Regions from separate parts of the Homo sapiens genome. Here region 1 is linked to region 2. Evidence: fine-mapped expression QTL. A gene starts in region 2. The other region holds a variant in brackets. All regions are shown on one strand. Distances are from middle to middle. Region 1 overlaps TMEM178B (transmembrane protein 178B). Region 2 holds the start of AGK-DT (AGK divergent transcript).

What was found. PIP is the estimated chance that this variant, and not a neighbour inherited with it, causes the effect.
Region 1: its variant is fine-mapped to the expression of AGK-DT in caudate (GTEx, PIP 0.97).

Annotation. Positions count from the first base shown.
Region 1 is chr7:141,442,927-141,448,305 of GRCh38, reverse strand. All of the region lies in intron 3 of TMEM178B (transmembrane protein 178B), which reads right to left. Among named protein-coding and RNA genes, the nearest start is that of AGK-DT, 110 kb to the left of the region's middle. The variant G/A (reference allele first, on the strand shown) is at 3,261.
Region 2 is chr7:141,549,107-141,554,456 of GRCh38, reverse strand. AGK-DT (AGK divergent transcript) reads left to right here and starts at 3,113. Exons shown (of 6, transcript NR_183408.1): 1 at 3,113-3,313. AGK (acylglycerol kinase) reads right to left here and starts at 3,047. Exons shown (of 16, transcript NM_018238.4): 1 at 3,023-3,047. RefSeq lists silencers at 2,803-2,982, 3,163-3,252.

The sequences.
Region 1 (5,379 bases), 110 kb after region 2:
ACGTCCAATTCTCAATAAATTCTGATCTTACTCCCTCCCCTGGAGGCCCTGCCAAAGTTTTTCAAGGTACATTCTCTCTTATCACAGAAAGCAATTGTCTTATTAACAGCTTTTCCTGATTAACAGGTTGTGTTCTCAATATTTGGGGAGTAGCTTTTGACATAAGGAAAGAGGCACACATGCTTTGTGTGATTATTCAGTCATCAAAGGCAAGCGGTGGTCTTAAGCACAGCAGACTGGTTAGGGAGAAGGGGGTTTACAAGCAGAATAGAGACGAGATCTGGTTTCTTAAGATCTCTGGGAGCCCCTGCAGCAAAAGTCTATGGAGTTCCGGGCTCAGGGCATTTAAGCGTGGGACAATGCTAGAGGCAGAACTGGCTTCATGGGCATGTGATCTATGCAGTCGCCCACTTGCTTGGATCCTCTACTGTTGCTGTCCTGAAATTCTTAATCATGTTTGAACGAGACATCCTGGGTTTTCATCCTGCACTGGGCCCCACAAATTGTATAGCTGGTACAGGCTAGATGGTGCGGCTGCCCCTGCAACACCTTCAGGGGGCACATGCCAGCCCCTAACCCTGCTCGGGCTTCTCCAGATATGGACAGACACAGCACCCCACTCACTGGAACTGGGAGTGGCAGGTGGTAGAGAGGCTGACATAGCCAGAGAGGTTGATAAAAGTCACACGGTATCAAATGATTGCCCAGGAAAGAAGCCCAGGGCAAGCTGTGAAACAGATAGAGAGCAGAGCAAGCAGAATGCGGATGGACGCCCCTCAGTCCATCAGCCCCTGCCCACGCCTCTGAGGCCCTTAATGATCTGCTCTTGGCGGAGTCATCTCTGTCTCATTCTGCTCCCATCACGGTCATCCTCTCACTCAACTTCTTCAGACCCAACAGGCTCAGTCCTCTCCCAGGCCCCTTCTCCTTGCTGCTCATTTTACCTGGCATGATCTTGCCCCAAGTCTTCTTATGGCTTCCTGCCCCCTACATTCAAGCCCTGTTCAAACATCACCACCACTGATAGGCCCTCCAAGCCCTCTCTAACAACAGCCATGCCCCCATCTCTATCACCTTCCCAGCTTTATTTTTCTCCATAGTTCTTATCACCTAACATCGCACTATATTTTTATGGCACTTGCTTTTGGTCTGTCTCTCCAACTTGAACGTAAGCTTCCTGAGGACTTTATCCTGCTCTTCCCTGTATCCTAGGTGCCTCGACAGTGTCTGGCACATAATAGGCAATCAGTATTTATTGAGCAAACAAATAAATGAATGAGTACGGGTGATCAGTCGGAGAGACATTACCTGTCTAAAGATTTCTTCTTTTTCATCTCGATGGCATGTAGTGCGTTTGTGTGGCATTGGTAGTGATGGGATGATGCTGCTCAGGGCAGTGTCACTAAAGGTGGTTATTTAAAAAAAGAAGTACTTCAGTAGCTAAATAATAATAATAACTTAAAAGGTATTCAGCACAATGCCAGGCATTGTTGTGAGCCCTTCACATGTATTAACTCTGCAAGTCTCATAGCTGTGCCTGAAGTGTGTCCTGTTATTGGACCTCTTTTATAGATGAGAAAATTGAAGCAAGGCATGAAAAATGGATAAGAAACTTTCCTAGGGCCACATGGCTAGTCCAAGACTCTTTTGGTCCTGGACTGGTTCTCCATGACAAAACCATAATTCCCTCTTCAATTGGGTGATTCCACTTAACTAGGACTCTCACCCCCAATCAAGAGGCAGAGAATGGAAGACAGCTCATGTGCAAGTGTAGACAAGGGTTGGCTCTTCCCAAAGAAACTCTCTGAGATGCCTTCACCAACCATCCTCCTTTGCATTTCCTTCCAGGGGCTGCTCTGTCTTAGCATTTCCATCCAGAAAGCCAATGACAAAGACTCCTCCTGCTCTGGCGAACATGTGGCACTGTGGCTTTCCTGAAGGCTTGGCAGGCGAGTGATGGGGAATTCTGACAAGGCTTTTAATTGCTGACCAGATTTGGATTCATCTGGATAAGGCTGCTCCCTGTTCTCTTCTGAACCCCACATCTGTAGAAGGGGTAGGTCCCATTGGGTGGCAAAGGTGAAACTCCTTTGGGTCTGCCCCAGCTTCAGTGTGAAAATGAGGCCCTCCTGCTGCCTGGGTTACTGAAGTGGTGCATCCTGGCCACTCATTCTACGTGAGGTACATTAGGTAAACCCGGATGTTATTTCCTAGTCCTCCTGACAATGTGTCTTCTCCCTCAAATGTCTTTTAGTGACATGACTTACCCCCTCCCTGATTTGTTTTAATTGTAATCATCAAATGCTAATAAATATTGAAATCTGCACTTTCCAAGAGGCAAGATACGCTCCAGGGTATGAAGTAGTTTGTGAGTCTCTAATCAGGATTTTGAAAGAAAGATTATAAGACAAAAAGTCAAGAGATGAGTTGTGATGTTCTAGTGAAATCTCACATAAAACTATAAAAGCAGATTGGCAGGGTAAGAAGATGGGTTTTATGCCAGAGTTGCCCTTGATTCACCATGATAGCTCACAGATACTTCTCTGCCTATTAAAATGGACTTCACTTAGGCTATACATGTAACAGTAACAGCACCATTTATCAAGGGTTTATTGTAAGCCTGTCTCATAGTAAGTCATTAGCTTACTGAATATATTCTCCCTCCCCAAAATATCTAACTTATATGGTCCTTTTACTCCATGTCTCCCCTCTCTGACCTAAGAGTCATGAAGTTTGAGATATAATGCCTCCTGAACTTATATTAGGTTTGTGCAAAAGTAACTGCCATTTTTGTCATTACTTTTAATTACTTTGAAACATCATCCTAGCATGTTTCTAAGTACAGCAAGCTAGGAATAACAGTGGGGAAAGGCTGGTGGGGAAACCTGAATGTTGTTCTATAAGATCCCTTAAATCATTTTACTGTCTAAAAGAAACAGTCCTCCAGGCAAGATGGCCATTGCCTTGGACTTCTCATTTTAGGCTTGTATATTTTCAGAATGCCCAGGCCTCCATGAAGGTCTTTGTCTAGCAGCAGAAGAGTGTTATGCTGAGTGTCTGGGGGTTCATCACACAGCTGAACTGCTCTCTGGTGAGCTTGGTGGAGCGGGTATAGATGCCAGACATGTGGCATCATCGGCTTGCAAATCACTGCAATCACTCACACATAATAGCCTGAGCTTCTTTAGGGCATTCTCTTCATTCCCCCTGACTGACTGGGAAGGTATAAAAGGTCACACTGATCACAGGTGGTAGGAAAA[G/A]AAACTTTAATGATTTCCTTTTCTCATTACCACCCGTGCCCTTGGTTCTGGCCGCGGTCTCCTCCATATGCCCCTTTGTGCTTTGTGAAAGGAGGGAAGGGAGAGAGGGAGACACAGAGTGAATGACACATACTGGCACCCACTTAGAAGCCCAGAACCAGAGTTGTGCTAGTGTGGGAAGAAGCAGGGGCTGTGGGGCCCCTGCTTCTTCAACACGGGGTTGAACATGGGAGATCTTCAACACGGGGTGCCAAAAGCAGGGGCAGGGCTGGGGATGCAAGAAAGCAGGCTGGGTCCCAGGCTGGGCTCCAGCTCTCATCTGCCACTCACTGGCCAGGTGACCTAGGACAACTTGACATGACTACTTTTACCTGGTGACGCAAGGAAGTGGAACTGGTTGGTCTCTAAAGTCCCTTTTATTTTATATCTATGAGTCCAAGTTCAAGACAGAAAGCTCTTCATGAATTCAAGTGTAATTCATACTCTATCTCCAAAAAGAATTTGAGATAGTTTATAACAGAAGTAGATCCTTGGACTGTTCAAATAAAGACAACAAGAGGACAAGAAATCTTGTGAAAGGGGAGATGATTAGAATAGGAACAGAAGATAAGATGGGGTATTTTACTGAAGAATTGCTGCTCTATTGAGACAAAACCAAAATATTTTGTTTGTTACACACAATTCACTTTTCCTATATATTTGTTCCACAAATATTTATTAAGAGCACAGACATTGTTCCCGACATTAGTGATACCTTAGGGAAGGTATCCCTTCATGAAAGCAGACAAAGTTCTGGAGATCATGGAGCATATATCTAAGTTCAGGGAGAGAGACAGTGAACAAATCCAGAATGTTAAAAACATTTCAGATACCTAGCACCCAATCACCCATATCTTGGTTTCTGATACCTTTCTCTAATAAAAGGAAACAGAGCTCCTTGAAGAAACGGCTGATTCTAGGTCTAGGGCAGGAAATATATAAGATAAGCCTGCCAAAAACTAAGTGCTCCAACAAGCAAACAATAAAAAAGTAGTCAAAACCAAAACCCACATTGATGGGGGTATCTCAAACAGGCACAGGAGCCAACAGAAAGCTCTCCCAATGGCCAAAGCTGTACCAATGAGAGCAACAAAAGAAGGTAGTATTGGATTAAACCCAAAGTGTAAGATAAATGCTCATCAGTCCACACTGGTATAAATGACTGAATAAATTAATAAATGGGGGAGAAGAGACAGACCTCCTCCCACGCAGAAGAATTCCAAATTAGATAGCTACTCCATCCTACAGGAGCATCTCCATCGCAGCACTCCATCTTCACGCCCCATTCCTCAAGCGTGGGCTGCATGTGGTGACTTCCTTCCGAGGAAGTCATGGGAAATGGGGGAAAAATAATTTTACAGTGTGGAAACTTGAGAAACACATGATCAGGACAATATCAACAGTCATAAATCATGTTGAAATGATGTGATGAAAATGGCATTTTACCTCTTTCTCCCCAAAACCCCTAACCCAGTCTAATCGTGAGAAAAACATCAGACAAGTTTCAATAGAAGAGCATTCTACAATATGCCTGACTAGTACTCTTTCAAACTGCCAAGATCGTCAAAAACAAGGAAAGTCTGAGAAACAGCTACAGCTAAGAGGAGCCTATGCAGACTCGAGAATGACGTGCAGTGTGGTGTCCTGAACGGGATCCTAGAACAGAAAAGGGCATCAGGTAAAAACTGAGGGAATCGGAGTCAGCTGGGGCCGTTGGCTAATAATAATGTACATATTTACTCATTAGTAATAACAAATGTATCATAATCATGTAACATGTTAATAATACAGGGAACTGGATACAGTGGCAGAGGATACTATGGGAAGTCTACAATCTGCTCAATTTTTCTGTAAATCTAAAACTGTTCTAAAAATAAGGTCTATTAAAAATCAAACAAACAGAGGGTCTAGAGGTCAGAGATGGAAGAAGTCAGAGATTCTCTCTCTTGCTGGCCTTGAATAAGCAAACTTCCCTGAGTTCTGCAGCTGCAAGGAAATGAATTCTGCCAACATTGTGATCTTGGAAGAGGGCCTCAAACATCAGATGAGAACCCAGCCCCAGCTGACGCCTTGATCACAG
Region 2 (5,350 bases):
TAGCAGGATAAAAAGCCATATATAATTGGCATTATACCAATTATGTTCAAACATGAGTATAAATTTAAAAAGAAAACCAATACAATTAAACAAAAACAATTTTTTTTTTTTTTTTTTTAGACAGGGTCTCACTCTGTCACCTAGGATGGAGTCCAGTGGCACAATCATAGCTCACTATAACTTCTGGGCCCAAACAAATCTCCTGCCTCAGCCTCCCAAGTAGCTGGGACCACAGGCACATACCACTACACTTGGCTAATTTTTTTCTTTCCTTTTTTTGTTAGAGACAAGGTCTCACTATGTTGCCCAGGCTGGTCTCAAACTCCTGGCCTCAAGCAATCCTCCCGCCTTGGCCATCCAAATTGCTGGGATTACAGACGTGAGCCACTGCACCTGGCTCAAAAACGAAATTTTAAAGTAGATCCCTCTAGGTTGTGGAATGGTGGGTGATGTTTATTTTTAAAATTGCAATGTACTTTCTAAGTTTTTGAAAATGAACTTATTTTCTAGATAAACAAAAATTTAAGCAAAATTTTTTTATGACTATCTGTTAGTGAGGTATATAGACCAAGAAAAAAAAAACTGTTTCCACTTAAAAGTCCAGTTCTTTTATGACTCCCTTTAAATCCCATTGGTTAAAATTCCTCTCAAGGGTAGAAACATCCTTATCAAAAGCAGCAGTGAAGCCAGTGCCAGGGAGACCATCTTCCTGTGAATCCCATACACCGTCAGGCTGACACATGATTCCAAAGGCCCAACTAATTCTTGAACTCCTCTCCATCTGGCCCTAAATCACTCCTTCATTCAAGAGCCCTTTAATAAACACCTATATGGTAGGCTCTGTGCTGGGGGTGAGGGCAGAGAAGAATGGGTCTCATGCGTTCTCTCAAGTGCTCACAACTGTCAAACCCACAATGCTAACACAATTATACAATTATGATTGCAGTACAGTGGGATAAATGTCGAGGAGTCAGCACAAGGCTTTGTGAGAGTCTGCAAGAATGAACCTAACCTGGTCTAGGGCTGAGGGGGTGGTGCACAGTCAATGAAGTCTTCCCTGAGCCTTGAATAATGAGGAGGAAATCACTAAAGTAACGAAGGAGTTTTGTGGATGCTATTGTCTGAATGCTGTGTTCCCCAAAAATGGTGATGTGGAAGCCCTATCCCCATTGAGATGGTATTAGGAGATAGAGCCTTCGGGAGATAATTGGGTCATAAGAGTGGCTCCCATGAAAGGGATTAGTGTCCTTATGAGACTAGACACTACAGAGATGGTCTCTCTGCATTGTGAGGATACAGCAAGAAGACAGATCTCTACAAACCGAGGAAGAGAGCTATCACCATGCACTCAACCATGCTGGCACCTTAACTTTGGACTTCCAGCCTCCGGAACTGTGAGAATTAAATTTCTGTTGTTTAAGCCACCCAGTTTTTGCTATTTTTTTTTTACAGTAGCCCAAACTGAGAGTGTACAAAGGCATAAAAGACAGTAAAGTGTGTTGAGAGAAACATACGTAGATAGTTGAGGGGAGAATTAGGTTCATGGCTGAGACTGGAAAAAGGGGGTATGATCTAACAGTAATACGCTGGGGAGAATTTAGCAAGGCCTATTTGTTCTGATTCTTCTCTGTGTACCTGTGTCTTCAAAGATAAGGGCATTCCTTTCCTCGATCCTATACTTACAGGATGAGCACCTCTCACTGAAGGGTCTTATACAGAAGAAGGTCAAACAATTCTTTTATGGCCTGCTTCAGGGGAGAAAAGTGGGAAGACACAAAGTGACTTTCCTGCTTCAGTTGTTTCCTCTAATGCCAACGAGTCATATTTTGCGGCAGTGTGTCCTGAATCTCATCAACAGCGGAGTAAAAATTGGAGTGTCTAGAACAGGGGTTCTCAACCTTTAGTGCAGAACTTGTTAAAAACACAGAATCCTGGGAACTGCCCCTTCCCGCAAGAGTCTCATTTGTTCTGGAATTAAGCTGTCATCTTCACTTGTTAACAAGTACTCCCATGTTGGTTGCAATGGAGGTCACCACTATACCAGACTTTGAGAAACAGTGGTTTAGAGATAAAGGATTGAAGACCAGGTGGGATTAGAAAAGACCTTGAACCCACACTAAGGACTTTGGCTATTATTTTGAAGACAATGAAAAACCTTTAATGGGCTTTAAGCAGGTGAGTGATATAATCATATTTGAACTGTTAAAAGACCACTTTATAGCAGAATGAAAAATGAACTGGAAGAAGCTAAAATTAAAGCTAAAGAGAACCATTAGGAAGTTATTGCCATAATCTGTAGGCTCCTAAAAGAACAAACCAAGATAAAGGATGGATTTGGAAAGCTTTAGAAAGTAGAAATTGGCAGCAGTTGGTGGTCCATTGACTGTAGTAAGTGAGAGAGGAGGAACCAAGCCAGGTTTTTGTGCTTGGGTGACTGGTTGAATAGTGATTTCAGTCATTTAGATTTGAGTGGTAGGTTTGTGGAGAAAAGTAGTGCGGTTTAGGAGATACTGAATTTGACACGCCTGTGGAGTATCCAGGTGGAAATGTTTTTCTTACTAGATAGTGAACCCCTCATGGGCAAGTTCGTCTATCCATCTGCAGCACCAGAACCTAGTAAAGCGCCAGAATGAATGAACCAACCAACCCATCAATGGATCTGATACTATTGGCCCCATTTTGCAAAGGGCTATGCTGAAGCCCAAGGGACGAAGTGAGGGGGGTCCACAAGTTAGCGACAGCTCTGGGACTCGAACCCAGGACAGCTGACTCCCGCCGTGACCACGGGATCCGCGCGAGGCCCTCCCCTGCCGCGCCGGCCAGGCCCGCACCCCCTACCCTCAAGCCGCGCCGCCGCCTGCACCCACGACCCCTGATGCTTGGGTCCCCGCGGCTCTCGGCCCAGCGCGACTCCAGAGGCTCCGCCCAGCGCCCCGGGCCCCCATCCCGACTCCCACCCCGCTCGCGCGCTCAGTCCCAGCGACCCGCACTGCGCTCCCCGCCTGGGCGCCGCTGCACTCACCACGGCTGGTCCAGCTCGCGGCTCTGCCTTTCCTGTGTGCTCCCTCCAGATTCCCCGGCTCGTTCAAGGGAAACCGCTGCCGCCGCCCTCGGGTTCCGCCGCGGGGCTGCGAGCGCGCGCGGGCCAGTTCGGGCCGGGGGCGGGAACCGGCTCGGATGCTCAGGGACGGTGGGGGTGGCAGGGCCCACCGGCTTGAGGCTGCCTTTCCCGGCGTTCCCTCGTTTATTGGCTCACTCTTCCTTTCATCCATCCATCCTTTGCGCAACAATATTTGATGGGAAGCCTGCCAAGGTAACACTGTTTTAGCACCTGGAACTAAGTCGGAAAATAAATTAACTAAATGAACAAGGCCATTGGAGATGGTGCTCCGTGCCACGAAGAAAATGAAACGAGGTGATGGAAGGCAGTGCGGGAAGGGGGAGAACTGTGTGAAATTAGGCGGCCTGCGCTAGGCCTTCTGAGTAAGGGGCCATTGGTCTGAGACCTGGATGTCAAGAAGGAGCAGCTGAAGCAAAGATCCAGGGGAGAGAGCCTGGAGAGGGAAGGGCCCGTGCAAAAGCTGAAAAGCCTGGGGCACTCTGGCGAGTTGCAGGCCAGTGTGGGTGAGACAGAGAGAGCTAAGGAGACAGGCCAAGCGAGGAAGCTGGAGAGGTGGAGACAGGCCACGGCGGCCAGGAGTTTGGACATGACATTAAACAGGGCGAGAAGACATTGCGGGGGTGCAATCAGGGGCTGGTGGGACTGGTTTCCATTTCACACAGCTCTCTGGCCACAGGTGCTTGATTGGATTCTAGAGAACAAGAGAGCAACGGAGAAGCTAGGCCAATGCCAACCTCCAGACAGTTTACATTCTGTACTCGCCCACCAGATTGGTGTGGGGACAAAGCCAGGTCCTTCTTCTTTCCAGCATTCAGTCTGCCAACTTTTTTTTTTTTTTAGACAGGGTCTCACTCTGTGGCTCAGGCGCTAGTGCAGTGGTGCAATCTCAGCTCACTGCAGCCTCTGCTTCCCGGGTTCAAGCAATTCTTGTGCCTCAGCCTCCCGAGTAACTGGGATTACAGGTGTGTGCCACCAGGCCCAGCTAAATTTTTTTGTATTTTTAGTAAAGACGGGGGTTTTGTCACGTTGGCCAGGCTGGTCTCGAACTCCTGACCTCAAGCGATCTGCCCGCCTTGGCCTCCCAAAGTGCTACGATTATAGGCATGAGCCATCGCACCCGGCCAGTCAACCAACATTTGAGTGTGCACTAGGCCCTGCATCAGGCACTGGGGGTATGCTCAGGTACAAGGCCCTTCATGGTTCCTGCCCCATGGAGCTTGCTATCTAGTCTGCACATTTCCTACGTGTAGACATGCATCCTACCTATGTCTCCCTAGGTGAATGCTTCAAAAAAAAAAGGCCGGGGCGGGGACCTTCAATGAGGCTATGGTGCAGTAAACATATTCCTTATGCCAGGGTGCACCAATCCATTGGGCCACACTGTTTAGTAGCAAGAAATTTCTAGCCCTCTCTCCTGAGTCTCCATCTGTAAACTAGGGGACTGAGAACATTACTATTAAAAAAAAACCCTTCTAGCTCTAAAATGTTGTCATAGGGTATGGAAGACCATTATTTTCAGTTCCTCTTTTCCAACTATCTAAAGCGTTTGTGTTTGGAAATAAGCTTCTGAACTGCTCACCTGCAGGCTAGAAAAATCTGAGACTTGATTTTGATGTTCCAAGGGTCAGACTCAGCGTATGCTTTAGGGCTTCAGCATGAAAGTGGTTCCCCAAATAAGAAAAGGTCAGCTTTGATGAAGGATGAAGAAGGATGGAAATATAGGAGATTAAGGGAATCTGAATACACACCTGCAGGCAGATGTGTAGGTTGGAGTTTTGGAGACCTATACCAATTCTACTCTCTTCCAAATACCATTTTACTAGGATGCATTCAGATTCCAGAATAATCAGGCACAAGCTCTAGCCAGCCCTGAATGGGTTCCTGCAGCCCAACAGAAACCTGACACTCTGACTTAGGCAGCCCCAAGAACTTCTGTTAGGCTGGGCGCAGTGGCTCAAGCCTGTAATCCCAGCACTTTGGGAGGCCAAGATGGGTGGATTGCCTAAGGTCAGGAGTTTGAGACCAGCCTGGCCAATATGGTGAAACTGTCTCTACTAAAAGTACAAAAATTAGCCAAGCGTGGTGGCAGGTGTCTGTAATCCCAGCTACATGGGAGGCTGAGACAAGAGAATTGCTTGAACCTGGGAGGCGGAGGTTACAGTGAGCCGATATCGCGCCATTGCGCTCTAGCCTGGGCAAGAAGAGCAAAACTACCTCTCAAAAAACAAA